Linked DNA regions of Homo sapiens: regions 1 and 2 are each linked to region 3. Evidence: fine-mapped expression QTL. A gene starts in region 3. Each other region holds a variant in brackets. All regions are shown on one strand. Distances are from middle to middle. Region 1 has its middle 35 kb from the start of ATP6V1G1. Region 2 overlaps TMEM268 (transmembrane protein 268). Region 3 holds the start of ATP6V1G1 (ATPase H+ transporting V1 subunit G1).

What was found.
Region 1: its variant is fine-mapped to the expression of ATP6V1G1 in macrophages (Nedelec 2016, PIP 0.95).
Region 2: its variant is fine-mapped to the expression of ATP6V1G1 in lung (TOPMed, PIP 0.97).

Annotation. Positions count from the first base shown.
Region 1 is chr9:114,547,917-114,558,236 of GRCh38, reverse strand. No RefSeq gene overlaps it. Among named protein-coding and RNA genes, the nearest start is that of ATP6V1G1, 35 kb to the left of the region's middle. The variant C/T (reference allele first, on the strand shown) is at 6,138.
Region 2 is chr9:114,624,521-114,634,840 of GRCh38, reverse strand. TMEM268 (transmembrane protein 268) reads right to left here. Exons shown (of 9, transcript NM_153045.4): 4 at 7,835-7,942; 5 at 6,591-6,740; 6 at 963-1,073. Among named protein-coding and RNA genes, the nearest start is that of TMEM268, 18 kb to the right of the region's middle. The variant G/A (reference allele first, on the strand shown) is at 4,611.
Region 3 is chr9:114,581,636-114,591,574 of GRCh38, reverse strand. It overlaps ATP6V1G1 (ATPase H+ transporting V1 subunit G1), which reads right to left and starts at 3,806. Exons shown (of 3, transcript NM_004888.4): 1 at 3,655-3,806. The coding sequence starts at 3,736. RefSeq lists enhancers at 3,371-3,880, 3,991-4,070, 3,709-4,527, 4,528-5,347, 7,859-8,363.

The DNA of each region.
Region 1 (10,320 bases), 34 kb after region 3:
CTTGTCATAGGTTAACAAGGGGGCTTCCATGAGGCTTATCTAAGTCACATGTGAAGTGTCACTCTTTGTAGTAAGCTGTTTCCAGAACACAGAAGGGTGACAGGATTTCTTTACCTATTGCTGTCTTCCGGGATAAGAGGACTCCAATAAAATTCAACAGCATCCACAGGAATGCTGAATAGGAATTCAACAAAACATACAAATACATACACTTCAAACACCTACTAGCTGTCTCAGTTCTCCAGGTGGGTGTGTTATAAGCCATACCTCCCTACAAATGGTGTTACAGCTGATGTTCCGATTTCAGATGACCCTCCTTCTGTCAGAGGCATTTGAACCGGAGTGACTCCATCTTGAATATGGGGCTGGGTAAAATAAGGCTGAGACATACTGGGCTGCATTTCCAGGAGGTTAGGCATTCTTAGTCACAGGATGACATAGGAAGTTGCCACAGGTCACAAAGACCTTGCTTGAAAACAGCATGTGGTAGAGAATCTAGCCAAATCCCACCAAAACCAAAATGACCATGAAAGTGACCTCTGGTTGTCCTCACTGCTCATTATACACTTATTATACTACTAAGAGACACTCCCACCAGTGCCATGACAGTTTACAAATGCCATGGCAACATCAGGAAGTTAGTCCCTATGGCTGGGCACGGTGGCTCACGCCTGTAATCCCAGCACTTTGGGAGGCCAAGGTGGGTGGATCACGAGGTCAGGAGATTGAGACCATCCTGGTTAACACGGTCAAACCCCGTCTCCACTAAAAATACAAAAAATTAGCCAAGTGTGGTGGCGGGCGCCTGTAGTCCCAGCTACTCAGGAGGCTGAGGCAGGAGAATGGTGTGAACCTAGGAGGCGGAGCTTGCAGTGAGCTGAGATCACGCCACTGCACTCTAGCCTGGGTGACAGAGGGAGACTCCATGTCAAAAAAAAAAAAAGGAAGTTAGTCTGTATGACCTAAAAAGGGGAGGAACCCTCAGTTCCGGGAATTTCCCACCCCTTTCCTGGAAAACTCATGAATAATCCATCCCTTGTTTAGCATATAATTAAGAAATAATGATTAAAAACAGCCAACCAGCAGCCCTTGGGGCTGCTCTGCTTATGTAGTAACCATTCTTTTGTTTCTTTACTTCTCTAATAAACTTGCTTTTACTTTACTATATGGACTCACCCCAAATTGTTTCTTGCACAAGGTCCAAGAACCCTCTCTTGGGGTCTGGATTGGGATTCCATTCTGGTAACACTTCTGCCACTGCACAGTATCTCACAAGCTGTCACTCTTTCTTGAACTTTAAACTTCAGGTTTTATTCAAGATAAACTGCCACATTTATTGTAGTGTGTCTTAGTCCGTTTTGTGTTGCTACAACAGAATACCACCAACTGGGTAATTTATAATCAACAGAAATTTATTTGGCTCACGGTTCTGGAGGCTGGGAAGTCCAAGAGAATGGCACTGGCTTCTAGCAAGGGCCTTCATGCCGCATCATGCCATGGTGAAATGCTGAAGGGCAAGAGAGCACATGAGTGAAAAAGAGAGAGAAAGAAGGGAAGGGCGCTGAACTCATCCTTTTTATCAGGAACCCACTCCCACAATAACTAACCCAGTCCCGTGATAATAGCATTAATCTATTCATTAGGGCAGTGCCATCATGACCTAATCACCTCTAAAATGTGCCACTTCTCAACAGTGCTGCATTTGGGGATTCAGTTTCCAACACATGAAATTTGGGGGACACATTCAAACAATAGTATGGCGTTTATGTCTTTCTTAACCATCTAATATGTGTGAGACTGTGCTACCATTTTTATTAGTTTCCTAACTTTCTTTTAATGTGTCACTGACAATGCTTTTGAGTGTGCCTTAACTCCATTTTTCCATAAGCCCTATGATTTTATTTTATTTTATTTTATTTTATTTTATTTTATTTTATTTTATTTTACTTTGAGACAGAGTCTTGTTCTGTTGCCTAGGCTGGAGTGCAGTGGCACAATCTTGGCTCACTACAGCCTCCGCCTCCTGGGTTCAAGAGATTCTTGTGTCTCAGCCTCCCAAGTAGCTGGGACTACAGGTGTGCACAATGCCTGGTTGATTTCGTATTTTTAGTACAGATGGGGATTCATCTTGTTGTCCAGGTTGGTCTTGAACTGCTGACCTGAGCTGATCCACCTGCCTCAGCCTCCCAAAGTGCTGGGATGGCAGGCATGAGCCACCACACCTGGCCTACCCTGTGATTTTTAATCACACAATTTTATATAGCACAATGATTTTCAGGAACACATAAGTCATCTTATAGTGGAACTGACTATTTGCAGCACAGTCAGCTCTTAGGAGAGGAAGCAGCCCAGGGTAATGGCACTGCACAACTCCAGGGACAGTGTTTACATGGCATCTTCTGTGGTGTGTATTCTGTGGAGTGTGCCCATAGGACCATGAATGTTTTGTGCCTAGCACAAGGGTTCGCAGCTGAGATGTGGACAGGGGCTGAGATCCAATGCTTACTCTGCCTGCCAAAGCCATCACATTCTCTGTCCACCCAGAGGGAGCTCCTGTTCCTAGCTCATAACACAAAAGAGGAGAAAAAGAGTTTTAATTGCATTTGGAATTGAAGTGAAATAATTGAACAAACAGAATTGTATCATAAATGTCAAAATGAGATTTTACTAACAGCCTAAAACAGTGCTTCCAAATCTCAAAGAAAAGGATGACATTTGTTGACCACTCGGCCAAGGCAACTGGCCAAGAGCTCTGACAGCCCCAGGCCCTACCCAGGCTACTCAGAGGGTTAAGGGATTTATTTCTCCATCTGTCCTGCACCTTAATAGTTCAGTGTGCTGTGGCACCTTAATTGGATACCTCTGACCAAAAGTGAAGGTAAATTAAGGAACCTTACCAAGATGACATCATGGAACTCATTATTCAATGGGAAAGGCAAAGTGGGGGCGGGGGGGGGGCAGGGAAACAGGGGAGGTATGTGTTAGTTAGTGCACCTACTGAAAGAGGGGAAGCAATTTCTATATTAAGGGGACCACACACTCTAATTTGCCCAGGACACTCCTGGTTTATGCATCCTTTTTCGTCCTCAGAAGGGTCCTAGTAACCCTATTTATACTCCAAAAGTTAACACTTCTTAATCAATAATTGGTGAAACACACTGTGGTATTGTGTGTGTGTATATATATATATATATATATATATATATATATAATTTGGTCCTTGTCCTGTCCCTGGTTTTTGACAAGGAGCTCCTAAATCCTTTGACATTTTTTGAGTGAAAGGAGTGTCTTTTGTTACTCAAAGGAGACTTTGGGTCCTTATCTGTCTCCAGCCATATATGAAAGTGTATGTGAATAAGGTCAATCTTGTTGGGCACCTAGATGACTTCAGGATGGGGCTGGTCATCAGAGGAATCAATCATGTGATTACAGGGATGCAACATCCAGTCCCACTGGGGAGGGGACAGGGGCAGGAGTTTCAGCTCAATCACCAATAGCCAATGATTTAATCAACCATGCCTATGTAATGAAATTGCCATAAAATCCCCCAAAGGAGACAGAAGGGTTTCAGAGCTTCTGAGTTGATGAACACATCCATGGATGGAGAGGGTGGTGCACCCTGACTCCACAGGGACAGAGGCTCCTGAACTCGGGACCCTTCCAGACTTTACCCTATGCCCCTCTTCATCTAGCTGTTCATTCGTATCCTTTATAATAAACTGTAGGTATAGTATTTTCCTGAGTTCTGTGAGTCATTCTAGCAAATTATAGTACCTGAAGCAGGCATGGGCCATGGGGATTTCTGAATTTGTAGCCAAATTGGACAAAAGTGCAGGTAGCCCAGAAACCCAGGACTTATGGCTGGCGTCCCAAGTGAGGGCTGTCTTGTGGCACTGAGCCCTTAAACCTATGGAGTCTGACACTAATTCTGGTTAGTCGATGTCAGAATAGGATCGGATTGTTGTACACCTAGTTGGTGTCATGGGAATCAGAGACAGTCCATCAAGTTTTAATTGTAACCCCCTCTAGAAGACAAATGGTCTGGGGACAGATCTTAGTAACAGATGCCAGACTGAGTATTACCATCCCCTTCAACATTAGAGGTGGTGATACTCGGCCATGGACTTCCCAGCTCTTCCCTTGAAGTGCAACAGGACCACCATGTTTGCCCACCTCCTCAGGCACCATTCACAGTGTATTTTATGTGAAGGTGTGGAGTTCATCTTTTTTAATTCCTAGGGAGTAAGAATTCAAGGTGACCTTTCTGGCACCCTCTCTACCTGATCAGCCTCCGCCATGCCATTTCGTAAGTATTTTCCCCAGCTCAAGTAGTAGATGAGAAGTTTTGCAAATCAGCTGGCTAAACAGATGTCCAACGGTGGAACAGACTACCAGTGTCCTTTCTTGCAGACACCCCAGTTTGAGCCCTATGTCTGTCTTGGCCTTAGGGAAAAGACAAAGGGGTATCCCTGGATGAACACCGTACTACCCACTGGCCAATGACCTCTAATATTTTTTGGGAAAGGTGTGGACCAATTTCATTTTTTCTCAGTAAGCCTTGTGAGAATACGCATGCTCTGAGAAGGGAATACTATCAGGTGGGTGACTTGATTGACGTGTCACCACAATGGTCCTGTTGCTTAGAAATCCATCAGTCCTTTGTGCATACCCCGTACTTCTGGGACTGTTCACCTGAATCAGTGACCAATGGTTTTGGCTAAAAGTTACAAAACCCATCCAATAGTGGCTTAAATGAAATAGACCTTATTATGTCTCCTAGAAGACTAGGAGCCAGAGGATGCAGGGCCGCTCAGAGGTGATGAGCACTGGGATCAACAGCCCAGTTTCTTCCTATCTTTTGGCTCCGCCTAAGCTGTTAGTTTTTCATGTTCACACTTGTCATCTCAAAGTCACAAGATAGCAATTAGGCATAAACTCTGCTACCAACCTTCCAAAGCAGAAAGAACAGGCATGGTCCAAAAGTCTTTTCTTTCTTCTTTTTCTTCTTTCTTTTTTTTTTTTTTTTTTAATAGAGATGGGGTTTCACCACATTGGCCAGGCTAGCCTCGAACTCCTGACTTCAAGTGATCCACCTGCCTTGGCCTCCCAAAGTGCTGGGATTAAAGGTGTGAGCCACCTGTAATCCAGCCCAAAAGCCTTTTCTTTCTGAGGCTCTGTCTTTTTTCTAGGAATTGAGGGTCGCACACTGACTTCCCTTAGGTCTCTTTGTCCAAAACTGGGGTTGGAAACACTCAAAAAGGGGAATGGGATTGCCAGGGCTGGCATAGACACATGATGACTCATTTCTGGAGTTGAGGGAAGGATCTTGCCCTTACAACAAGCCGGGGAAAGGGGTGGAGGGGCGGGTAACGGTCACCCCTCTGAGTGCCAACCTTGACCATCTATCTTGCTTGCCCATCAGTTCTTCAGTGCATCTGCACCTCCAATGTCCGTGCCCTTCTTGCAGACACCCCAGGTGGAGGCCTTTCCTCTTTTCTCTCTCCCAGCAATACTGGACTTTTCCACAGGAGTGGGTAGCACTCAATAAATGTTTCTTAAATAAATGAAGACAAAAAAATGTTTTAAAAAATGATTTTATGGAGGGTGTGGGGAGTATAGAATTTGGAAGAAACATATTTCATAGAATTATTAGACAAATAGAGCCCAGAGATCAGGAATTCATTGCCAGGAGCCCATGACTGGGTGTCAGCGGGTTCCATGAAACCCTGAGATTGCATGACACATTTTGCATGAATGTGTATATAAATTTTGGGTAGGGTGTGTCCTTGGTTTATAGCACATGTAAGATTCTGCAACCTCTAAAAGACTCAGAAAGCCCACCCCAAATGGCCAAGGGCAACACCCTCAATTACCGGTGGGCAAAGTAGTAGCCAGCATCCTCCAAGGAATGACAAGCTAGCAGGACTGAGCTTCTGACTCCCAGGACCTCTCCTCCTAAAGCCACAGACTCCATTGTTTCTATTTTTAAAAGGCCAGTCCAAAAGGTGTTATTATTCTCTGTCTCCCAGCACAGCTTGGAGCAGAGTGGCCAGACTAGGGAAGGAGTCTCTCGTGATGACTCACCACCATCCTCCCCTGAGTAATGGCCTTCAGGCTCTATCACTCACTTGTGCTGA[C/T]GCACTAGACTGGAAAAAGCTGACCCTGAGTCAGTGGTTATATGGACACATAAAACCCTGGGAGGCGGGACCAAAGAGAAGGAGCTGAGCTGGAGGTAAAGCCAGTGCCCACCACCCAGACCCACACCTCCCCAACCCCAAGGGAGAAAGGTAATTTACTTAGGCAAGAGCCAGGTGAGCTACTGGATCAGTGTTAAAACTCCAAGCAGCCCCTGCATAGTGGATAGCTTGTAGGTGAAGATGGAGAATGGGAAGAAGGCCCACCTCTCCCTCAATAGGCAGCTCCTTCCCACTTTTGGGATGGAGAATAGCTGCGGTTGAGTTTGGCTTGGGAGGCTCAGTGAGTTAGTTAGGACCCCACCCCACATAATTCAGAGTGTGTGAGGCTGGGTGCAGTGGCTTACGCCTGTAATCCCAGTACTTTGGGAGGCCAAGGTGGGAGGATCGCTTGAGGCCAGGAGTTTGAGACCAGCCTGGGAAACACAGGGAGACCCCCTCCTCTGCCCCATCTCTACAAAAAAAAATTTTTTTTTTTTAATTAGCCGGACTTGGTGGCCTGTGCCCATTATCCCAGCTACTTGGGAGGCTGAAGGGGGAGGGATTGCTTGAGCCTGGAAGGCTGAGGCTGCTGTGAGCTGTGTGGTTGGACCACTGCACTCTAGCCCAGGCAACAAAGCAAGACCCTGTCTCAAAAAAAAAAAATAATAATAATAATTAATGAAATTTAAAAAATACAAAAACAAACAAACAAACAAAAAACAACCCACACATTGTTGTGTGAGAGCAGGCCCGGGACAGTTTTCCAGCTCCCAAGGTGTGCACCCTGGTCGGTAAGCCCTGGATTTGTTATGTGATCTTGGGAAACTCATTTGGCCTCCCTGGTCCTCCGTTGGTTTCCTTAATAGAAAGTTAAGGGGTTGCACTAGGTCAGTGGTTCTACATATTCCTCCCTAACAACCTCTGACTCCACAAAGGTAACCCTAGGCAAGCCATGGAGGGGAAGGGTCCCAGTGAGGGGCCTTAGAGACTAGGAGGAGAGGTGCCTTGGGGGACAAACGAGAGGGCCCCTTGGAAAAGGAAGGACACTGGCCTCTGGACATTTCATGCTGATGGGATTCTGCAGCATGGCTGCCCTTTAGAAGTGAAGAGCTTTGGCCAGGCTCACACCTGTAGTCCCAGCACTTTGGGAGGCTGAGGCAGGAGGATTGCTTGAGCCTAGGAGTTTGAGACCAGCCTGGGCAACATAGTGAGACCCCATCGATATTTTTTTAAAAAGAAATGTGGAGCTTTGTAAAATCAGAATTGCTTTCCCCAGACCTACTGATTCAGAGTCTTGCAGGGATAGAGACTGGAACTTGGACTTTCAGAAAGCTCTCCAGGACATTCTAAAGCAGCAGAGATTGTGCCTGTGAATAGCCACTGCACTCTAGCCTGGACAACATAGTGAGACCCCATCTCTGTAGAAGAGGGAGAAGGAGAAATAAAGTAGCAGGGGCTGGAGATCTAAGATCTGGGCCCACTCAAGGTCAAGGTGCTGCTGACCACCTCTTTCCCAGTTGCCCCCTGGCCACAGTGGAGATGCCCATTCCAGGAGGCAGCCCCCACCTCAAAAGAAAGGAAAAGAACAGAAAAGAAAAGAAGAACAATGGGGTCCAGACTTCAGCAGGTCCTCCAAGAGCAGCCGACCTCCTGCTTCCAGGTGTTCCAAGTGCATCAGTTCACACACATCTGTTGCCAGAGCCACAAGTCTATCGAGATCCTGAGTGGAAATATCTCCATCATTTAGCTGGTGACAGAGGCAATACCAAGAACAGTGTACTTACAATCGCTAGAGAAAAACATTGAATGGATTTTGAATAGCTGCAGAACGGCTCACACAGTGCACACAAATTCATTATCAGACTTGGCTCCACTCCTTTCAGGCGTGCCTCAGGCATGATAGGTTTCTGAAATTTGCATTCCTAAATGGAGGATGCTGATGCAGAAAGCAGGCAGCCGAGATGGGATTGGAGGAGGGAAAGATTCACAAGTGAGTTGGGTGGCGGTTGCTAGGAAAAGAACAATGTTGGTTGGAACTGTTGAGTTACAATGACAGAGTCCCAACTCTTGGCGGTTGAAGGAGAAAAGGAGATTTACTGGCGTCATGGAAGAGCTCAGAGTGACTCTGTGTCTTACAGAGTCTCTCTGCAGCCCCTGGTTCTGCTTTCCTCTGTGAGAACTTCCGTCTTGGCCAGGCCCTCACAAAGTGGCAACACAGGTGGCCACCAATGGTTCCGGCTTAGCTACTGCAGGGAAAGAATTCTTCTTTGTCCCAGAAGAGCCAGCCAAAGTCTGAGGGTGGACTCTCAGGGGCAGGCTTGTGACATCTGGACATCCCTGAACAGAGCACAGTGGCCAGGCCTGGAGCCGAACCATGAGGTGTGCCTCACTCAGACCGCAGAAACTGACATGACAGAGTGGCTTCTTCAGGGAGAATTAGGATGCTGTTATTAGAAGGAGGCGAGATGCTGGGAAGGCACGCAGGAGCTCTTCCCAGCCACTGCGGCAGGAGTGAAAAGCACTTGCTCTTGTTTCTGTCATGTGCTGAGCTCACTTCTATTACAGATTTTTCTAGGTGGTCATTTCTTTATCTGCATGTCTTCCCTGCTGGTTATGTATCCTCTCTCAGGCAGGAGCTGTGACCTCTATCATCTTTAAACTTGCAGATTTACAGAGGTGGTTAATAAGTCTTACTAGATGGGGTAAATAGCACAAGACTGGGATTAGAGAATTCTGAGTTTCTGTCTGGATTCTATGTGTAGACTTGTGTGCAGCCTTTGAGCAAGTGCTTTCTTCTCCTTCGGCCTCTTTCTAATGCACTGGATGAGGGTCAGCAAACGTTTTCTGTAAATTGCCAGATAGTGAATATGTTAAGCTTTGTGGGCCATATGGTCTCGGTCATGAACATTCAACTCCACCACTGCTGCCCAAAAGCAGCCAAAGACAGTACATGAGCAAGTGGGCACTGCTGTGTTCAAATAAATAGAAATAGGCAGTTCATGGGCAAAGTAAATGATTGCTGTTGGGTTTTTTTGCTTTTTGTTTTTATTTGTATTTTTGTTATTCTTTTTTCCTGACCATGGCAAGGACTGTTAAAACTGTCATTTTAAGCTGCTACATTTCCTTCTTCTTTCTTTCCTTCCTTCCTTCCTTCCCTCCTCCTTTCCTCCCTTCCTCCCTTCTCTCTCTCTCTCTCTCTCTCTCTGTCTCTCTTCTCTGTAAGCCAGGCTGGAGTGCGGTAGCGCTATCACAGCTCACTGCAGCTCAATTTCCTGGGCTCAAGGGATCCTCCCACCTCAGCCGAGTAGATGGGACTACAGACGCATGCCACCACACTCAGCTAATTTAAATTTTGTTGTTGTTGTTGAGATAGGGTCTCACTCTGTTGCCCAGTCTGGTCTTGAGCTCCTGGACTCAAGCAATCATCCCACCTCAGCATCCCAAAGTGCTGAGATTACAGACATGAGGCACTGTGCCCAGCAGCTGCCAAATTTTCTAGTGGCCTATCACATAGCAATAGTTAAAGGGAACAGTCATCCAGCAGAGGGTGGCAAACTATAGCTAGACAGCCACATTTGGGACTCCACTGGTTTTTGTTTAAAAAAAAAAATCAGCCGGAAGATACTTCTTCACGTGGACTTCTCCACAGGGCTGCCTGGGCTTCCCCACAGTATGGCAGCTGTGTTCTAAGAGTAAATTTTCCAAGAGATGAGAGGTAGAGGCTGTCAGTGTCTCAAGGCCAGGGTTCAGAAACTGGCACAGTGTCACCATACATTATTGGAAATCCACCAACTGCCCCAGATGAGTTCCCAGCTGACAGCCAGCCCCAGCTTGCCAACCACAGAAGTGAGCCATCTTGGAAGTGGATCGTCCTGCCCCAATTGAGCTTCCCCAGCTGATGCTTCCTGGAGTGCAGCATCACTGCCTTGAATCTGGGAGCTGGCCCTAAAAGGCTGGGTGATGTTTCAGCTCAAGGGAGGGTATTTTGAATAAAATATTCAGAAGGAAGGCTGGAAAAGAAGTGGACCAAATTGCAGATTTGCAATTTTGCAGTTGCGGAGCCCACCCAGATTCAAGTTTTGACATTCCTCCTATAGGTGGGGACTGTGTCTCTTCCACTTAAATCATGAACTCCAAGGACTCT
Region 2 (10,320 bases), 43 kb before region 3:
ATCTTGGGTGTGATAGGCTCCACAAACATAGGGACCTGCATGTGTTCTCTGCTGCAGCCTCAATCCCTGGGACAGTGCCTGGTACACAATAGGCTCTCAATAAACATTCGTGGAGGAACTGAGGCAGGTGCATGAGGAGCCTCTTCCCAGGTCCCCCGTGCACACCTACCTCTGGGCTCCCACCAGGCAAGGGGCCATGACTGGTGAGAATGCAGATGTGGTGCCAAGGAGGTTTTGCAATTCCACTGGGCAGATCAGGCATGGATGGAGGAACAGGAGAGTTCAGCCAGGATCAGGAGATCTGGCCTAACTGTGTTCTGACCCACCCTGCCACGCCATACTAGTCACTTTCAGATCTCCCCCCAACCTTCGGGGCAAAGAGAATGACCAAGCCAGGCAAACAAGGCCTTCAGCATCTGACCTGCCTCTCCGGCCTCATCTCTCCCCGCTGTGTCACTCTGGTATAGCCCCAGCCATGGTGAGCTCCATGCAGCCCTTCAAAGGGACCCTGTGTACCTTGCCTCTCAGCCTTGTTGGGGGCTGTCCGTTTGCTATAAGGCCAGAGAGGCTACTGTTGACTGTCTCACTGTATGCCTGTCATCCTCTGCCAGGACAGGGACCTTGCATGGGCCCCTCAATGTCGCCAGTGTCCAACCGAGGGCACAGCACAGAGGAGGCTCCGTCTGCTGAATAAATGCCAGGTGAGCAGCAAGGTGTGGACATTATCTGTGCTTCCCTTCCAGCCCTGCCACGTGGAGGTTCCAGGCCACTGGTTACTGCACAGAGAAGGTGTCTTGAGGAAGAAACACCAGGGCAGGGAGGAAGGAAAGGGCTGCCAACAGCCATCTCATTAGCAGACTACTGCAAACACTGTGTAGGCTGGGAGAACATGAGGCCACTGCTCTCCATTAGCCCAACATAAAACTGGGCCATCAGGAAGAGGTAACTATGAGACACAGCACCTGAATCACACTCTGGCATCCTTCCACTGTGTCTGTCACCCCCAGCAGCACCCGGTGTCTCAGGAGGGCTCCATTGGCAGCTGCCAGCCTCAGGTCCGTGTTGGTGTTGGCCTGTAAGACAAACGCCAGGCCCATCACCAGACCTCCATGCTACTGGGGAGCTCCCAGGCTCTGGGCAGTAGAAACACACCATCCCACCCCCAGATGCCAAGGGACAATCCCCACCCTCAGGACTGTCCCATTTCCTCCCCTATTAAATGGTCGGGGGTGGAGGCAGTCACAGTGACTCATGCCTGTAATCCCAGTGTTTTGAGAGACTAAGGCAGGAGAATTTCTTGAAGCCAGGGGTTTGAGGCCAGCCTGGACAATGTAGCGAGATGCCGTCTCTATAAAAAATTGTTTAAAAATTAACTACGTGGGGCCAGGCGCGGTGGTTCACGCCTGTAATCCCAGCACTTTGGGAGGCCGAGGCAGGTGGATCACAAGGTCAGGAGTTCGAGACCAGCCTGGCCAACATGGTGAAACCCCTTCTCTACTAATAATACAAAAATTAGCTGGGCGTGGTGACACACACCTGTAGTCCCAGCTACTCGGGAGGCTGAGACAGGAGAATTGCTTGAACCCAGGAGGCAGAGGTTGCAGTGCACAGAGATCACGCCACTGCACTCCAGCCTGGGCAACAGAGTGAGACTCTGTCTCAAAAAAAAAAAAAAAAATTAACTAGGCATGTTAGCATCCACCTGTAGTCCCAACTACTTGGGAGGGTGAGGCGAGAGGATCACTTGAGCCCAGGAGTGTGAGGTTATAGTAAGCTATGATTGTGCCACTGCACTCCAGCCTAGGTGACAGAGTGAGACTCTATCTCTTAAAAATAAGGGAAGAAAAATAAAATGAGATGGGGGATAGTTGGAACAGTAAATTCAATAGTGTCAGACAGCCCTGGGATAAAGCCCAGCTCTGCTGCTTCCTAGCTATATGGCCCTGGACAAGGTATGTCCCTTCCCTGAACCTTATTTTCTTCAGTTGTAGAATAAAAGAATGTGTCTGCCTCCTAGGAATGGAGTGAGATTTCACTGAGATTGTGTGTAAAGTACTTAACCCAGGGCCTGGGACTCTGTCAAGGTTCATAAGATATTTGCGGAAGATGGGAGATCAAATGGGTTTGATCTGTTTGAGCTGACACATCAAATCTGTTGTGTAAGTGAAGCACTCACTCCATCTAGAAAGCACCTACTTTAAAGTACCTAACACAGCGCCTGGCCCTCAGGTGGGGCTCTGGGAATCAGCCTCCTGCTCTCCTACCCAAACCAATGGACGCCACGCATTCAGCTGGGAGAGTGGATGCTAAACAGGTGGGGGAGAAGAGGAGGGACAAGAGGACCCCAAATGCTGGTTTGGGGAAGTAAGCACAAGAGGACTTTCAGACTCAGTTAGAAGAGAGCAGCCTGATCAAGAATAATAGTTCTCAAAAGGGGCAGCACCCTGTAAGGGAGATTTTGGAAATGCAAGGAGGACCCTTTGGTTGTCACAGGGATGGGATGGACAGTGCTGGCACTTAGTGGATGAGGGCCAGGGGTTCTGAACCCATGCCTTCCACTGAAAGACATGTCCTATTAGAAACCATTCTGCATGTTCAAGACTGTCCCCTGGGCTGCCTGGATTCCAAATGTCCCACTGAGCATACATGCAGATAAAAAAAAATCTACTTAGAATTCTCTGGTCAGCCAACCTAACTCCAGTTTACATTTATACCTAAAGTGATTTTTTTTTTTTTTTTTTTGGAGACCTAGTCTCGCTCTGTCACCCAGGTTGGAATGCAGTGGTACGATCACAGCTCACTGCAGGCTTGACCTCCTGAGCTCAGATCTTCCTACCTCAGCCTCCCAAGCAGCTGGGACCACACATGCATGCCACCACACTCAGCTAACTTTTAAATTTTTTGTAGAGATCGAGTCTCACTATGTTGCCCAGGCTGGTCTCAAACTCCTAGGTTCAAGCAATTCTCCCACCTCAGCCTCCCAAAGTGCTGGGATTACAGACATGAGCCATCACGCCCAGCCACTTAACGTGATTGTTTGCATGAGTTTAATGTACACTGAATTTTCCAGGAATGCCTCTACTATGAAAATTGAGGAATAATTATATTTTGTTTTGCCTAGATCTGTAGTAAGAAGATTTGGATGTGGATTTGGATTTGATGTGGATTTCTTCCTTCTAGAAATCTGTATCACCAATAGTTCAATTCCTAACGTACCTCTCACTGCCCATATAACCTTGGGCAAATTACTAAACATCTCTGTGCCTCCATCTCCTTACCCCCAAATGGAGATAATAATGCCCCTACCTCAGAGGAGTATAATAAGGATGAAATGAGTTAATCCATGTAGAATAATTGAAAGAATTGAACACTTAACACATGTCAGCTGATAATATCACAGTGAGGATGACAGTGAACTTAAATCATTGTGTTTTCACTGTGCCATATTAGCCGCAAATATTTGTAGGAACTTGGAACTTCTCATGTGTCCTAGCAATGTGCCAGGACTTGCCTGCCTTTACAAACCAGCCAATCTTTTTTTTTTTTTTTTTTTTTTTTGAGGCAGGCTGGAGTATAATGTTGCCATCAGAGCTCACTGCAGCCTTGAACTCCTAGGCTCAAGCAATCCTCCCACCTCAGCCTCCCAGGACTATGGGCATGTGCCACCACACCCCGCTGATTTTATTTTTTGTAGAGACAGAGTCTCACAATGTTGCCTAGCCTGGTCTCAAACTCCTGGGCCCAAGTGATCCTCCCACCTGAGCCTCCCAAAGTACTGGGATTATAAGTGTGAGCCACCATGCCCGGCCCAAATCTTCCAATCCTGAGAAAGGCTAACAGTGAGCCAAAGGGAAAACAAGACAGTTATGCCAGACATTGATGCTCTCAAAGACATCAAGTAACAACAGAGAGGATGCTAACAGTAAGAGTGACAATGGTCAGGAAGAGGGGATCTGCATAGTCCTGAGTGACAAGGGATCCAGGGAGGAGGAGGTCCTGGAGCTGAGACCCAAAAGAAGACCTGAGAAGGGCTGTGTGGCCATGGACTGGTTACTTAACCTCTCTGAACTTCCGTTTCCTCACTGGCAAACAGAGTTAATAACAGTTAATACTTACAAAGCATTTACTTTACACCAGGTACTATTATAAACACTTTGTGTGTCTAAGTCATTTAATTCTCACAATAACCCTATGAGGGAGCTACAATTATTATCTCATGTTTTAGATGAGGAAACTGAGGCCCTGATAGATTAAGTAACTCACCCCAAGTTGCAGAGCTAGCAAATGGCGGCGGTATCCTGCCTCCTTATAAGGTTGTTGTTGGGCATAGACGTGAAGCCCCAAGCATACAGCATACAATAGGTGCTCATGAAATGATGGACATTATTAGGAAGAAAATAAGGAGTCTCCTAAATGAGCAGACAGTGATGATGGCATTGCCAGGATGCACCTGAGACCTCCATGCTGCACACAAGCCTTGCGCATTTTCTGGGATCTGTGCCTGGCACAGAGTAAGACCTGTCTTGGATGGATGGATGGATGGATGGATGGATGGATGGATAGATATATATTGTTGGAACAGTAAATTCAATAGTGTCAGTCCTGGGCCA[G/A]AGCCCAGCTCTGCTGTTTCCTGGCTGTGCGGCCCTGACAAGGTATGTCCTGGTACTATCAAGGGCTTCATAAATACCAGCTGAATAAAAGGAGGAAAGAAGAGACAGAGGCAGAGAGCCAAAGCAGGCATTCCCTCCACCATGTGAATTACATCCACATCCTCGAAGCACCTGTCAGGTGCCAATCTTTTTTGCTTGCTCCTGCTAACTAAAACAAAACACTTTGCTTCTTCCCCTCCCCAAGACAAAGTTCTTGCTGCAGGAGTAGCCAGCTCGATTTGTTTTATAGGCCAAACACAAGGGCCATGAAAGCTTCAACAGACCCCAAGGGCAGCATTATTTTGTCAGTCTTGTGGCAAAGCCCAACAAAGATCCTTACAGAATGAGTACACCATATAGTTCCCGTTTGTCTCGTGAACACACGCACTAAGTGGAATTCACACCCCAAATGCTGATTTACATTTCCCAACATCCTGCCCCCTCTTTCTGAGTCAGGCAAGATCAGAGTCCAGCACTGTGCCAGGGATCGGGGGATGGAGGAACAAGAGCTTCCCAAGTAGGTGGAAAGACAACATAGGTGTGGTAGCAGAGAAATGGTCCCCAAAGATGTCTAAATCCTATTCGCCAAAACCAGTGCAAATGTTGTTACACAGCAAAGGGGAGTTAAAGCCACCGATGAAATTTATGTTGTTAATCAGCTGACCTTAAAATTAGGAGATTATCTCAGATTATCCAGCTGGCCCAATGTAATCACAAGGGTCCTTAAAAGTAGAAGAGGGAGGCAAAAGAGCCAGAGAAGGAGATGTGAAAAAGATTGGATCTGCCATTGCTGGCTTTGAAGATGAAGAAAAGGATCACGAGCCAAGGAATGCAGAGGACCACTAGGAGCTAAACAGGCAAGAAAACAGATTCTCCCCCAGAGCCTTCAGAAGGAAGCAGCCCTGCCTGTACCTAGATTTTAGTCCAGTGAGACCTATGTCAAATATCTAACCTACAGAACTGGAAGATAATAAATTGGTGTTGTTTTAATCCAATAAGTTCATGGTAATTTGTTACAGCAGCTTTGGAAAACCAACAGTTTTCTCTAGCGTTGTGGCTAAGAACATGGCTTGGAATCTGAGGCCCTGGCCTTGATTTCCAACTCTGGCATTTATTAGCAGCATGGCCAGGGCTACTCTATGAGCCTGAGTCTAGGGTTCCTCGACTGCAAAGTGAGTGTAACAGCCTCTACCCAGATTTAATGTCGAAGGATTTAATGAGTTAATGTGTAAGCATTTAACAGAGGACCTACTACATATGATGTGCTCAGTACATATCAAAAGACAGACACTGAAGAGACAGAAAACAATTAAAATCATACATCAAGCTGGGAGGTATCCACCTCCTTTCGGAACATGATCAGGAACCAGAGGGCTCAGGGTTTGAACCCTGGCTCTGTCACTAACAGTGGGATCCAGGACAAGTTACCTAAACTCTCGGACCACCCACCTTGCCTCAAAGGTCATTGCTGGGATTAGAGACATGACTGTCAATAGAGCACCAGGTCGGCATCTGCCCGTCACAGGAGGGAATAATGTAAATTACCTCTCCCCAGACGTCAACTTTAGGCACCCTGTGCTGCAGGGTGGGTTCAGTAATCCTCCCTTGTTCATAGGGCTGTTGTGAGCACCCAGGGAGAGGAAGTGCATGAGAGGGCTCAGTTAACTAAAGTACTGTCAGGATACGGGCAATTACTGCTCTCCTCTCACATTCCCAAAACACAGCTTGCTTCCAGAAAAACAATCCACAGGGATTAGACAGGAAAAGCAGAGAGAACAATCACATACACAATTTGATTTCTTTTAGTCACTGGGCTTACGGGCTAGTGTGAATTTTCATGGCCAGGGAAATTCTTTGAGGGAGGCAAAAGGGAAAAATCTGATTCTCACGCCTGCACCGCTCTTCTGGAGAGAGTGTGGCAGGGATCTCCAGACATCTCACCTTCTTCTGGTGTCTTTCAAAGACCAGCACAAGAGTCAAGGTCAGGCTCACCGCGGCCAGGGTCACGAGCAGCATGCCAGCCCAGTGGTTCCCCAAGGCAAACATCTGACTGGTAGAGTAGATATTGGCCCACACCACCACATAGAAAACCTGCAAGATGCCAGACAGAGAGCATGGTCAGGAACTTCAGTCCTTGCATAAAGCAGCTCCATTCAAAGGGACACCTTTCAGACACTACTGATACCCTCCTTGGATTCAGACAGCTCACAGCACCAGTAAGAGATTGATGCAGTCACCTGGATCTGTGAGAATGAGCTAATGTTCCTTGTTTATAAGCAAAAGTAGACAAAAAGGGTTAGTAGCTACTCCTAATCCTTGTTTACCTTAATTTTAAATAAAACAGAAAAAGGCAGGTGGATCTGAAGTGAGACAAATATCAGTTCAAAGACCATAATGATCCTTCAAGCACTATATGGCTTTGGACAATTTATAACTCCCCTAAGTCTCAGTTTCCTCATCTGTAAAATGGGGATAATAACACCTATTTCACGGCATTGTAATAAGGGTTAACAAGGCAACATAAGTAACAGCCCAGCACTCACCAGGGAATGAATCAATGCTGGTTCCCACCCTTTTCCCTTCTCCCTAGAAGTGGGACCTGGGAGTCAGGTGTGCTATTTGACCATTTATACATACAAAACAGCAGCAAATCACAGTGGTTCCAAGCACAGACGCTGAAACCAGACTGCCTGGGTTCAAATCCTGGCTCTGTCATTTATGTATGTAAGTGTTTATATGTATCAATATGAAGATGTATACATATATTTTATATATATATACATATGTGTATACACACATATATATGTACATGTATATATGAATAGAGCTGAAATAACCCATCTGTTGAGCAGATGGGGAAACCAAGTTCCGGAGAGGAGGAAAGTCTTGGCCAAGGCCAGATATTGAGCCCAGAGCCTGGGTGGATCTGCAGACTCCCAATCCCAAGCTCTGCCCACAGTAAACCCTGACTCCCATCCTTTATGCAACGACCTGGTTACAACTCTCTCCCATAAATTTCCTCTGATCCCAAATCAATGTCCATATGTACTGCTCGTTTCCAGGCACCTGGGCCAACAGCCCCCAAGCCCCTGACCCACACCAACAGGCTCCAAGACACGGTGCTGAATTTGGTGGTGCCATAAGCTGTCAGGGCAGGGTCAGTGTGCGGGCCACCTCCCCCTTACCACAGCAAAGGCCAGCCGCATAGGCCTCGAGTTGTAGATGATATATCTTCTCACTTGGGGCTCCAAGAGGGCACTCTCAGCCAAGCTCCTGTACTGGTCAGCCGGGACCTGCTTGGAACCCAGGGAAAGAGATCAATCAGCCGCAGGACAGCCAGTTTCCAGTGCATGTGACTATCATGTGGAAGGGGGATTAGGCACATTCTGGGCTGTCCCAAAGGCAGAATGAGGAGCTTGGAGCACTGGGTGGAAGTCACATGGTGCAGCTCTCAGCTCAGGGAAGAACAGGCATCATGACATCTGGAGAAGGATCCACACAGCCTCAGACTCAGTACCTTGCAGCAGACACAGGGCAGCCTGATGGTTAAGGCATAGGCCCTGGAGTCAGACAGCCCTGGGCCCAAACTCTGGCCCTGCCACTCATGTGCTGTGTGACCTGGAGCAAGTAACCCCACTCCTCTGAGCCTGTTTTTTCCTCTGTAAAATAAGGATAATAAAAGTACCCACTTTGTAGAACTAAGGTACATATTAAATAATACATGTACAGTGCTGAGCAAAGGGCCAGTCCCTCAGTGAGCACTCAATATAGAGTTGCCACTATCAATACTGCAATATCAATATCTATTAATGCTGTCCAAAAGACTGAACACTCACATCTTCCTGCCCAAACAAAAGCGTCTATAGAATATAAAGGCCCCGTGAGAGTAGAACTAAGAAAACAGAACTTAACCATTAAAATGATATTTAGGCCAGGTGCAGTGTCTCACACCTGTAATCCCAGCACTTTGGGAGACCAAGGCAGGTGGACTGCTTGAGCCTAGGAGTTCAAGACCAGGCTGGGCAACATAGCAAGACCCTGTCTCTTTTTATAAAAATAAAAAAGAATGCCAGGCACGGTGGCTCACACCTGTAATCCCCGCACTTTGGGAGGTCAAGGCGGGCGGATCACGAGATCAGGAGTTTGAGACCAGCCTGGCCAACATGGTGAAACCCTGTTCCTGCTAAAAATACAAAAATTAGCTGGGCATGGTGGCACGTGCCTGTAATCCCAGCTACTCGGGAGGCTGAGGCAGGAGAATTGCTTGAAGCCGGGAGGCAGAGGTTGCAGTGAGCCGAGATCACACCACTGTACTCCAGCCTGGGCCACAGAGCAAGACTCTGTCTCAAAAAATTAATTAATTAATTAATTGAATTGAATTGAAAAAAATTATATTTAGGAACACGGTAGAACAATACGTAAACTGTTCACCCATAAGAAAACCCAATCTGCCAGGCGTGGTGGCTCATACCTATAATCCCAGCACTTTGGGAGGCCGAGGCGGGTGGATCACTTGAAGTCAGGAGTTCGAGACCAGCCTGGCCAACATGGTGAAACCCCGTCTCTACTAAAAAATACAAAAATTAGCCAGCCGTGGTGCATGCTTGTAGTTCCAGCTACTTGGGAGGCTGAGGCATCAGAATCACTTGAACCCAGGAAGCACAGGTTGCAGTGAGCCCAGATTGCGCCACTGCACTCCAGCCTGGGCAACAGAGCAACACTCTATCTTGAAAAAAAAAAAAAAAAAAGAAGAAGAAGTAAATTCTAAAATCTTCAGGCTAAAATTAGCAGTATATCTACCCTATTCATAATTAATCCTTAATCCTCCTTGGCCTTGGCTAGCACAGGAAAGGCCTGATCATGTTGGGGGCTTTGGGAAGAGAGTAAAACCCATACATATAGGTACTTCATAACAATAATAGCTACAATGTATTGAGCATTTACTATATACTAGAGACAATGCCAGGGTTCCTCAAGCATTATTGCATTTAATCTTAACAAAAACCCCTTGTAATAGGGATCAATATTATCCACATTTACAGATGATAAAACTGAGGCTCAGAAAGGTTAAATCACCTTCCTAAAGTCACACAGGTAGTGAGCATCGGAGCTAGATCTGCATCCAGTTCCACAGGTCTGTGAAGCCTGGCCTCAAATCACTATGCTTGAAGGTACTGCATCATTATCTAATGAATTCATATGGACTTTCCCTTGTATATGCAGTCCCCTCTCCTAAAATGCCCTTCCTCCTCTCCACCCAGCATATTCCTATTTATTCAAGATCCCAGATCAAGCATCTGCTCCTCTGCAAAGCTTTCACAACCACTGCCCTCTTCCCCCAGGCAAGTTTCTCATTTTCTCCTGTGAATGTCTTCACTGCCTGTGCATTCCTCTTCTGTGGCATTTATATGATACTGTCCCAATTTCTCCCACACACGTCCATCTTCCCCGCTGGGATCTGTGGACATAGGTACTGTGTCCTGTCCACCCCTATTATGTTTAGCCAGTTAAGTGCCTGGCACAGAGTGGGCACCCAAAAAAATACACATTTGTTAAGTGAGTTAACCGGGAAGAGAGGAAAGAGAGGGCACTTCTAATATACCTTCCTTATATACCCTACGACAGCTGGTACAGACTGTTTCATAAAGATTTTGTGAAAAACTGGATGAAA
Region 3 (9,939 bases):
CAGGTCTCTCTCTCAAAACTCCAAGAACTATTTCTGCAAGTCCACATTCACTCCAGTATTATTTCTGGCCTACTACTGTCTGCTTCGGCCACCTGTACCCCAATCCTTCACATGCTATCTTCCCATCAGCTATAATGGGCTGTATTTCAAAGCTAAAGATACTTTCGAAACCAACAATCTATAAATAACACTCATGGCCTGAACATTATGCAGTAGCTCCGCATGATTTCACAAGACATCACCTCCCAACTCCCATGGCTCCCTGCATTTATAACTCAGGATAATACCATTTACTGCCTTTGGCAAACATCTTCAACATTCAATTTTGACAGGGGCCTCTAAAAATCAAAAATATTTAAACAGAAAATCGTATTTCTCTTAAATCTTGTTCTTCTTGGGCCTTACATATGGGAGCCAGTGTTTTGTTTCACTCCAATGAAATATGCCATTAACACAAACTTTTTTAAAATTTTAAGGTCCACGCCGGGCGCGCTGGCTCACGCCTGTAATCCCAGCACTTTGAGAGGCCAAGGTGAGCAGATCACAAGGTCAGGAGTTCGAGACCAACCTGGCCACTATGGTGAAACCCTGTCTCTACTAAAAACACAAAAACTAGCCGGGCATGGTGGCAGGCACCTGTAGTCCCAGCTACTCGGGCGGCTGAGGCAGAAGAATCGCTTGAACCTGGGAGGCAGAGATTGTAGTGAGCCGAGATCACGCCACTGCCCTCCTGCCTGGGGGCGACAGAGCGAGAATCCATCTCAAAAAAATAAATAAACAAAATATATAAAATAAAATAAAAAATAATAAAAAAAATTTAAGGTCCAACTCAATGATTTCATTAAAAAAACTGGATGGGATCATTTTATATACTGCCTCTTCCCAACTCTTAACTGGGCAAATCAACCATAATTATAAATCAAGAAAGGCAAATTTTCAAACTGCAGTTCTTCTGACTACCTCTCTGTTCCTAACTATTAACAATTCTGAGACAGGCAAGGCGCAGTCGCTCATATCTGTAATCCCAGCACTTTGGGAGGCCGAGAGTTTGAGAAGAACCCGGCCGACATAGTAAAACACTGTCTCTACTAAAAATACAAAAATTTATTTTTTTATTTATGTATTAATTTATATGTTTTTGTATTTTTAGTAGAGATGGGCATGGTGGTAGGCACCTGTAATCCCAGCTACTTGGGAGCCTGAGGCACAAAATCTCGAACTCTGGAGGTGGAGGATGCAGTGAGCCAAGATGGTGCCACTGCACTCTAGCCTGAGTGACAGAGTGAGACTCTGTCTCAAAAAAAAAAAAAAAAATCTGAGAAGTATGTAAGCCATAAACTAATACTTTGGTTTGTTTTTTGTTTTTTTTTTTTTTTGAGACGGCGTCTCCCTCTGTCCCCAAGGCTGGAGTGCTGTGGGACAGATCTCCGCTCACTGCAACCTCTGCCTCCTGGGTTCAAGCGTTTCTCCTGTCTCAGCCTCCCAAGTAGCTGGGACTACACGCGCACACCACCACGCCCAGCTAACTTTTGTATTTTTAGTAGACACGGAGTTTCTCCATATTGCCCAGGCTGGTCTCAAACTCTTGATCTCAGGTGATCCACCCACCTCAGCCTCCCAAAGTGCTGGGATTACAGGCGTGAGCCACCACGCCCAGCCAAATTAATACTTTTTAAAACCAATTCACAGCTACCTGACATATACAAAACCCTGCACCAGGCTTGACAGGATAAAGGTATAAAACATAAATCCTACCTGGCTAGGGCACTCAGAATTATTCTTACCTATTCCAAGCATTTTTTCCTGCACTTCCCCAATCTATTCTCCTATCCCTCCCGACAGATACAACTTCTGTTACTGATGAGCCATCAGAACACAAACTGTGAGAAGTCATTCTGGAAATACACTATCAAGGGCATGACTGGAAATATTCTGGGAAGAACAAAGAACTTTCCAGTCACCGGAGCAAGAACAAAAGGCTTCTTCTCATTCCCAACACCCTCAAAGAAAGCTTTCCAAGTACCACACAACCCCTAACTGCACAAGTAGAGGAGACATGCTTGAAATCTAGTTGGATGTCAGATAGAATAACTCCTATACTAGGAGAAACACCAAGGAATTACTAAGATCAGTATCTTCGCCTTGCATGGAAAAAGAGGCTTCTGAGTCCCAACTATGTTGCTTCCCAGGGTATGGATAAATCATTTCTCTCTGAGCCTCATTTTTACTATCTGTAAAATAGGGATAGAAGCATCTTTCTCACCAGACGGGAAACTGGATACATAAAGTTAAATGAGACATAGTTTCTGTTCTCCAGAAGCTTAGTCTAGTGACTGAGCCATATAAACAAACAGGTTATTGCACGGCAGTGGCAGAAATCAGCACTTGGGAGGGACTCCAAGCCTAGTCCGGGGGACAAGCATGAGTCAGGAAAGGCTTCCCGGGAAGAAGTGTTTCCTAAATTGAGGTCTGATGGAAGACTAAGGGTCAGAGAACAAAGGGGAGGAGAATTGGAAAAGGCTTCTCACGTCAGAAGAAACAGCGTGTGCAAAAACCTGCAGGTGAAAGACATCATGCTGCTTCTGAGGGACCACAACGATTCAGTATAGCTGGAGGAAAGCACCAGGCCTGACCCACAAGAGCCTCCCCAACTTCATTAAGGAATTTGAGCTTTCTTCTGCAGGAACTAAACGTCTGACTACAAAGGCGGTAGGGAAATCATATCTGCACTTATTTATTTATTTTGTTCCTTACCAGCAGGAAGTCACATATTTGCATTTTAGAAGGATGACTGATTGCAGAGAGGAGAATGGATTGACTGGAGGGGACCAGAACGGGTTCTTCCACTCCCCAGTCTAGATTAAACTCACCTGTTAAATTCTTTAGCAACCTTACATTTCTCCACTCCAGCCCTCATCTCTCCTGCAATTAATTAACTGACCCAATACCTGCTTCCTTCACTGCGACACTGAATGCCACGTTAGGGGAGACAACTGATGCACTGGGCACTGCGCTTGCCACATATTAGACAGAAACACACACACACACACACACACACACACACTGCGCTTGCCACATGTTAGAAACACACACACACTGCGCTTGCCACATATCAGAAACACACACACGCACACACGCCAACGATTTAGACAACTACAGTACCTTTAGAGAAACTGGTGTCCTGGACTAAGACGCTGGTAGTAGACATGGGGGAAAAAGTGAAAGATACGCAAGCCTTGGCGACTGACTAAATGAGGGAGGGAGAAGAGGCAAGCAGGACTCCAGGTTTCTAGACCAAGCAACTGTGTGGATGCTGGCTCCCTTCACCGAGACTGACCACCCCAGAGCGGTTAAGTGGGAGAGAAGAAGAACAAAGAGCTCCGTTTGGAGAGCCCATTTCACATGCCTCCAGGCCCCAAGGACGGTAACCCATTATTGTTTCCACGCCCAATTTACCATCTCACATCGTGGCTTCCAGGCGATCCGCAAGCCTTCCAGAGCCTCAGCTCCTCAAAGCTTCGAAACACACAACCTTCCGCGACTATACGCACGCCCGCACCCCGCAGTTTTTCGGGCCTAATCTACCCACCACCTGAGGCCCAGCGGTCTTTCTTCGACTCGCGCCACGCCGGGCAGCCCCACCCTGAAACTCACTTTTGCGGGCCTCGGACACCTTCTCGGCTGCCCGCTTCTCGGCCTGCAGCAGCTGCTGAATCCCCTGAGACTGACTAGCCATGGCGGCAGCGATTCTGAGAGCAAGGCAAGCGGCCTAAGGCACCTCGAAGGCCCCTTGGGTCAGCTGACACAGCCGCCCACAATCTGCGCTTGCTCCTTGCGCCTGCGCTTCGCCCCCGTTGTCACGTGACCGCACAGCGTAGCATCAGCTGACCGCTCTTGAACTTCTGTGATTCGGCAGAAATGGGGCGGGGCGGGGCTGAGGAGAAAGGAGCGGAGCTCCTCGACTGCGCCTGTGCAGTCTACTGCGCAGTACTGCCCTCTACTCCTCTGTCCGCTCCCTGGCCTCTTTTAATGGCTACCCTGTCGCTGGTTCACTCTGTAGCCGCCCTGCCACGTATAGTGTCTGTTTGCAGTATGCTCAACGTCAAGAGAGGAGGGGCCAAGTCAAATCACTTTCCTCCTACTCTCCACACTGCTCTACTCACTCCCTTTCTGGGACTTTCTTTGGCACTCAAAATTTTATCGGGGTAGTTCAGGAAGATTCTTGCCAGTTCCGGGGATAGAGTCTTGGGTTGCCAGTTAGGAGACTCGGGATCAAGTCTGCCGCTAACCTGTGTGATTTTGGACAGGTCGCTATCCTTTTCTGAACCCGAGTTCAGGAATGGACTGGACTGTTTCCCATAAATATTTGATGAAAGCCTGCTGTGATCCTAGTCCACTGTTGATATTGAGGACATAGCAGAGAGCAGGGCAAACAAGGTCCCGGCGGAGCTCACAGTTTATGGACACAGACAGATTAATTAAAATAAATAGACAATTACAAACTGTGATAAAGTCATGAAGGAAAAATGCAGGGTGCCGTAAGAAGGAACCTTTAGTAAGGGGAGAGGAATATGGAGGTGTCTCTGAATGCTGTACCAAGGAAGTGGTGTTTAAGATCTGAAGGCCAGGCGCAGTGGCTCACGAGCCTGTAATCCCAGCACTTTGAGAGGCCGAGGCGGGTGGATCACTTCAGGTGAGGAGTTCGAGACCAGCCTGGCCGACGTGGTGAAACCCCGTCTTTACTAAAAATACAAAAATTAGCCGGGCGTGGTGGCGCGCGCCTGTAATCGCAGCTACTCAGTAGGCTGAGGCACGAGAATCGCTTGAACCCGGGAGGCGGAGGCTGCAGTGAGCCGAGATCGTGACGCTGCACTGCAGCCAGGGCGACAGAGCAAGACTGTCTCAAAAAAATTAAAATTAAAAAATTAAAATAGGCCAATCGCGGTGGCTCACGCCTATAATCCCAGCACTTTGGGAGGCTGAGGCCGGCGGATCACGAGATCAGGAATTTGAGACCAGCCTGACCAATGTGGTGAAACCTGGTCTCTACTAAAAATACAAAAATCCGGGCATGGTGGCGCGCGCCTGTAATCCCAGCTACTCAGGAGGCTGAGGTAGGAGAATCGCCTGAACCTGGGAGCTGAGGTTGCAGTGAGCCGAGATCGTGTCACTACACTCCAGCCTGGGTGACAGAGCAGACTCCATCTCAAAAATAAATAAGTAAATAAATAATAAAAATTCTCAAAAAATAAAATAAGATCTGAAGAATAAGAAGTTACCCAGGAAAGGATAGTGGGGGATGGAGGCGGTGGGAGATGATTAGGGGAAAAGGACCAGCGTGTGCGGAGTTGGGGAGGGGGTCAACTTGGCACGGAGACATCTCCCCATCCACCGTGAATAGGGAAATAGGAAGCCATGGTTTGAGTTTACAGTATGACGGGCCCTTGTCATCGCTTCACTCACTCCTCACATTAACTTTGATACTGTTACTAATTCCATTTTATATTGACCAAACTGAAGCTCAGAGAGTCGCAAAGTCTCTGAGCCAAAAGTCATGCCCCTATTAACACACAGACAGGGTATTTGAATCCAGTCAGGGCTGCAGAGTAAAACCTCTGAGCTACTGCTTTTCTGCCGGAATCCTCTGGGCTGAGGAAAGGACCAGGTGACCTCTTAGAGTCCACTGAGTGCTGAGAACATAAAATAATGCCAGAATTTTTCTTGATACAAAGATTCTTCACTCCAGGAGCTGGATTCATGGCTCAGGACATTTTCATTTGATTGACGTGGTGGGGTTGGAAAGAACAGAATTTCTATCCTTTTCTGATGTGAGAAACAGGACTGGAAAGAGTTTTGAAGATAAAACAGAATAGAGCACATGGGCCCACATGTCTCCTGCCTGAGTTACTATATTCCTTAAAGGATAAATTACACTAATCCTTGCCTCTTTTACACATAAGATAACATCTGACAGAGTTAGTGATTATACTTCTGCAAATGTACCTTATTTCTTTTTCTTTTTTCTTTTTTTTTTTTTCTTTAGATATTCTGTAGCCCAGGCTGGAGTGCAGTGGCGCGATTTCGGCTCACTGCAACCTCCGCCTCCCGGGTTCAAGCGATTCTCCTGCCTCAGCCTCTCGAGTACCTGGGATTACAGGTGCCTACCACTGTGCCTGGCTAATTTTTTTTGTAGTTTTAGTAGAGATGGGGTTTCCCCATCTTGGCCAAGCTGGTCTTAAACTCCTGACCTCGTGATCCACCAGCTTCGGCCTTCCAAAGTGCTGGGATTACAGGTGTGAGCCACCCCGACCAGCCAGTTAAAGTACATTTTAATAAAGAAATAAAGGCTGGGCGTGGTGGCTCACACCTGTAATCCTAGCACTTTGGGAGGCTGAGGCGGGTGGATCACAAGGTAAGGAGTTCCAGACCAGCCTGGCCAACATGGTGAAACCCCATCTCTACTAGCAATACAAAAATTAGCTGGGCATGGTGGCACATGCCTGTAGACCCAGCTACTCGGGAGGCTGAAGCAGAAGGATCCCTTGATGCCAGGAATTAGAGGCTGTAGTGCACTATGATTGCCCCTGTAAATGGCCACTGCACTCCAGCATGGGCAATGCAGGGAGGCCCCATCTGTATAAACAAAAGGAGAACAAAAGAAAGAAACCACAGTTCACTCAGTCAATCAATGGAAGACAGCAATACACACTTCTAGAGGTGGCATGAAGATTAAAAGAGATGATGGTACCCCAAAACTGGAAACAACCCAAATGTCCATCTACTGATGAGTAGATAAAATGTAGCATATTCATACAATAGAATAGTATTTGGTTATAAAAAGGAAATAAAGCTACAACGTGGATGAAACTTGGTAATATGCTAAATGAAAAAAGCCAGGCACAAAAGACTACATATTATACAGTTCCGTTTATAGGAACAATCCAGAATAGGCAAATAGACACAGAAAATAGATTAGTGGTTAACCAGGGGCTGAGGGGAGAGGAATGGGGGAGTGACTGCTAATTGGCATGGGTTTTCTTTTTCGGGTGATGGAAACATTCTGGAATTAGTGGTGACAGTTTCATACCCTTGTGAATATACAGTAAACAAAAACAAAAACAAACCCGGCCGGGCACGGTGGCTCACACCTGTAATCCCAGCACCTTGGGAGTCTGAGTCGGGTGGATCACCTGAGGTCGGGAGTTTGAGATCAGCCTGACCAACATGGAGAAACCCCATCTCTACTAAAAATACAAAATTAGGTGGGCATGGTGGTGCATACCTGTAATCCCAGCTACTTGGGAGGCTGAGGCAAGAGAATGGCTTTAACCTGGGAGGCGGAGGTTGCAGTGAGCCGAGATCACACCATTGCACTCCAGCCTGGGCAACAAGAGCGAAACTCCTTCTCCAAAGAAAAAAAAAAAAAAAGCAACACTGAATTGCATACTTTAAAAGTACAGTATGTGAATTATACCTCTATAAAGGTGTTATTAGAGAGAGATGATGACAGATGTAAAGCCCTTGCAATTTCTAGTCTGCAGTAAGAGCCAGGAAATGGAAGCTGTTATTTTTATCTGGCTAGGGGGTGATTGTTTGAATTACAAATGTGGTGCTCCACTTAACAAAAGCCTTCACATTAGGGTTCCTCTAACAGTCCAGTCCCTCAAACCATCTAAATATCTACAAATTCCAGAATTCTTTTTGCTTGTAGCATTTCAAAAGTTTATTGTGTAAAGAGAAAAAAATCAGACAATCCCGCCTCTGAAATTTTTAGACTGGTTTGGATTTTCCGATGATCTGAGTGGGTGTTTGTTGTCAGAACTCATGTACCCTGGGGAGGTGTCCCACAATAACTAGGAAATAAAGGTGAAGCCATTGCCCTCTGAGAGAAAGTTTTGAGCCAGTAGGGTAGATTCAGACAGTCGTCTGAAGGAAACAGAGTGGATCTCAGGCCTTGCTGCCCTGACCAAGGAATGTATTAGCATATCAAAGAAAGGAGTGTTTCCATTCTGAGAAGTAGTTATTCAAACACAGGCTGGAAACAAGGAGAAGCAGCAAGGGTGTTCTTCACACACCCCAGCTCAGCTAGAACTAAGGTAGGTGGAGCCTCTCACTACCTTGGGTAAGAAAGCCAGGTGGCCCGAGTTCAAATCCCTAGCCCTGTAATTTAGCAAATGGAACCACTCTGTGGGTTCAACTCCTCGTATGTTAAAAATGAAGTTAGCCGGCCAAGGTGGGTGGATAGCTTGAGCCCAGAAGTTTAAGACCAGCCTGGGCAACATAGTGAGACCTCTTCTCTACAAAAAATTCAAAAAATTAGCCAGGCATGGTGGCACATGCCTGTGGTCCCAGGTACTCCAGAGGCTGAGGCAGAAGGATTGCTTGAGCCTAGGAGTTGAGGGCTGCAGTGAGCTGTGATCACGCCATTGTACTCTAGCCTGGGTGACAAAGTGAGACCCTGTCTCAAAAAAAAAAAAAATGAAGCTAATAATAGTATAATAATGTTATTGTGAGGATTAAATCAGTTAACACATGTAACTAGCTTACAATGTACTCACTGCTCACAAGAATTTAGATATCTGGACCCCATGTTGACACAAGAATAATACAGGGCAGTGGCAGGAGAATAGAAGATTCTAGGCAGGCTGGGGACGGTGGTTCATGCCTGTAATCCCAGCACTTTGGGAGGCCGAGGAGGGTGGATAAACTGAGGTCAGGTGTTCGAGGCCAGCCTGGCCAACATAGCGAAACCTCGTCTCTACTAAAAATACAAAAATTAGCTGGGCATGGTGGCATGTGCCCGTAATCCCAGCTACTAGTGGGGCGAGGCAAGAGAATCACTTGAATCTGGGAGACGGAGGTTGCAGTGAGCCGAGATCATGCCAGTGCACTCTAGCCTGGGCAAAAGAGTAAGACTCAGTCTCAAAAAAAAAAAAAAGGAAAATTCTAGGCAGCAGATTCATATGACTAATAAAAGGCAACTTTTGAAATGGATGCATAAGCTAGGGGTTGATAAAACCCTGAAAAATCAGAGTATAGGCCAAGCTGGCTAAGTTCGACTGGACCCAATCTGGGGCTGAATTTGACCTAGGTTTCTCCTAGGACCTCATTATACGCTCATTAACATACCAAATCATACACCCACCAGCACCTGGACAGTCCCAGGAACACCCATATTTGGTGTAAAAATGGGCGGCAACAAGGCTGGGCGCGGTGGCTCATGCCTGTAATCCCAGCACTTTGGGAGGCCGAGGTGGGGGGATCACAAGGTCAGGAGATCGAGACCATCCTGTGAATGGTGAAACCCCGTCTCTACTAAAAATACAAAACATTAGCCGGGCGTGGTGGCAGGCGCCTGTAGTCCCAGCTACTCGGGAGGCTGAGGCAGGAGAATGGCGTGAACCCGGGAGGCGGAGCTTGCAGTGAGACGAGATCGCGCCACTACACTCCAGCCTGGGTGACAGAGCGAGACTCCGTCTCAAAAAAAAAAAAAAAAAAAATGGGCAGCAACAGTTCTGAGAAATCTTCACCTTTTTCCAGGAACCTTCATGAATATTCTGCCCCTTGGCTAAGGAAACCCATAAAGATAGAAACCCCAAACCCGATGGCATAGCTCTCTGTCTTGAGAACACCTGCACCTCCCTTTCTTGAGTGTGTACTCTGCACTTTGCAATAAATCTCAGTACTTTCACTATTTTTCTGCTAGTCCTTGAATTCCTTCTCATGACAGTGACAAAACCTGGACACCAGCAGGGGTCGAGTTCCCACTGGCTTTTGGGGACTTCACCACAGAAGATAAGAAATGACCTAGTGTATCTGGTCAATGAAAGGTCACCTTAGACAAGGGGACTCCTTCCAGAGACTCTGCAGTGCCACTGCAAATGGTGGGATAGGCTGTTTACTGCATAAGGAGGCAAGACTGGGCTAAATTCCAGCCCA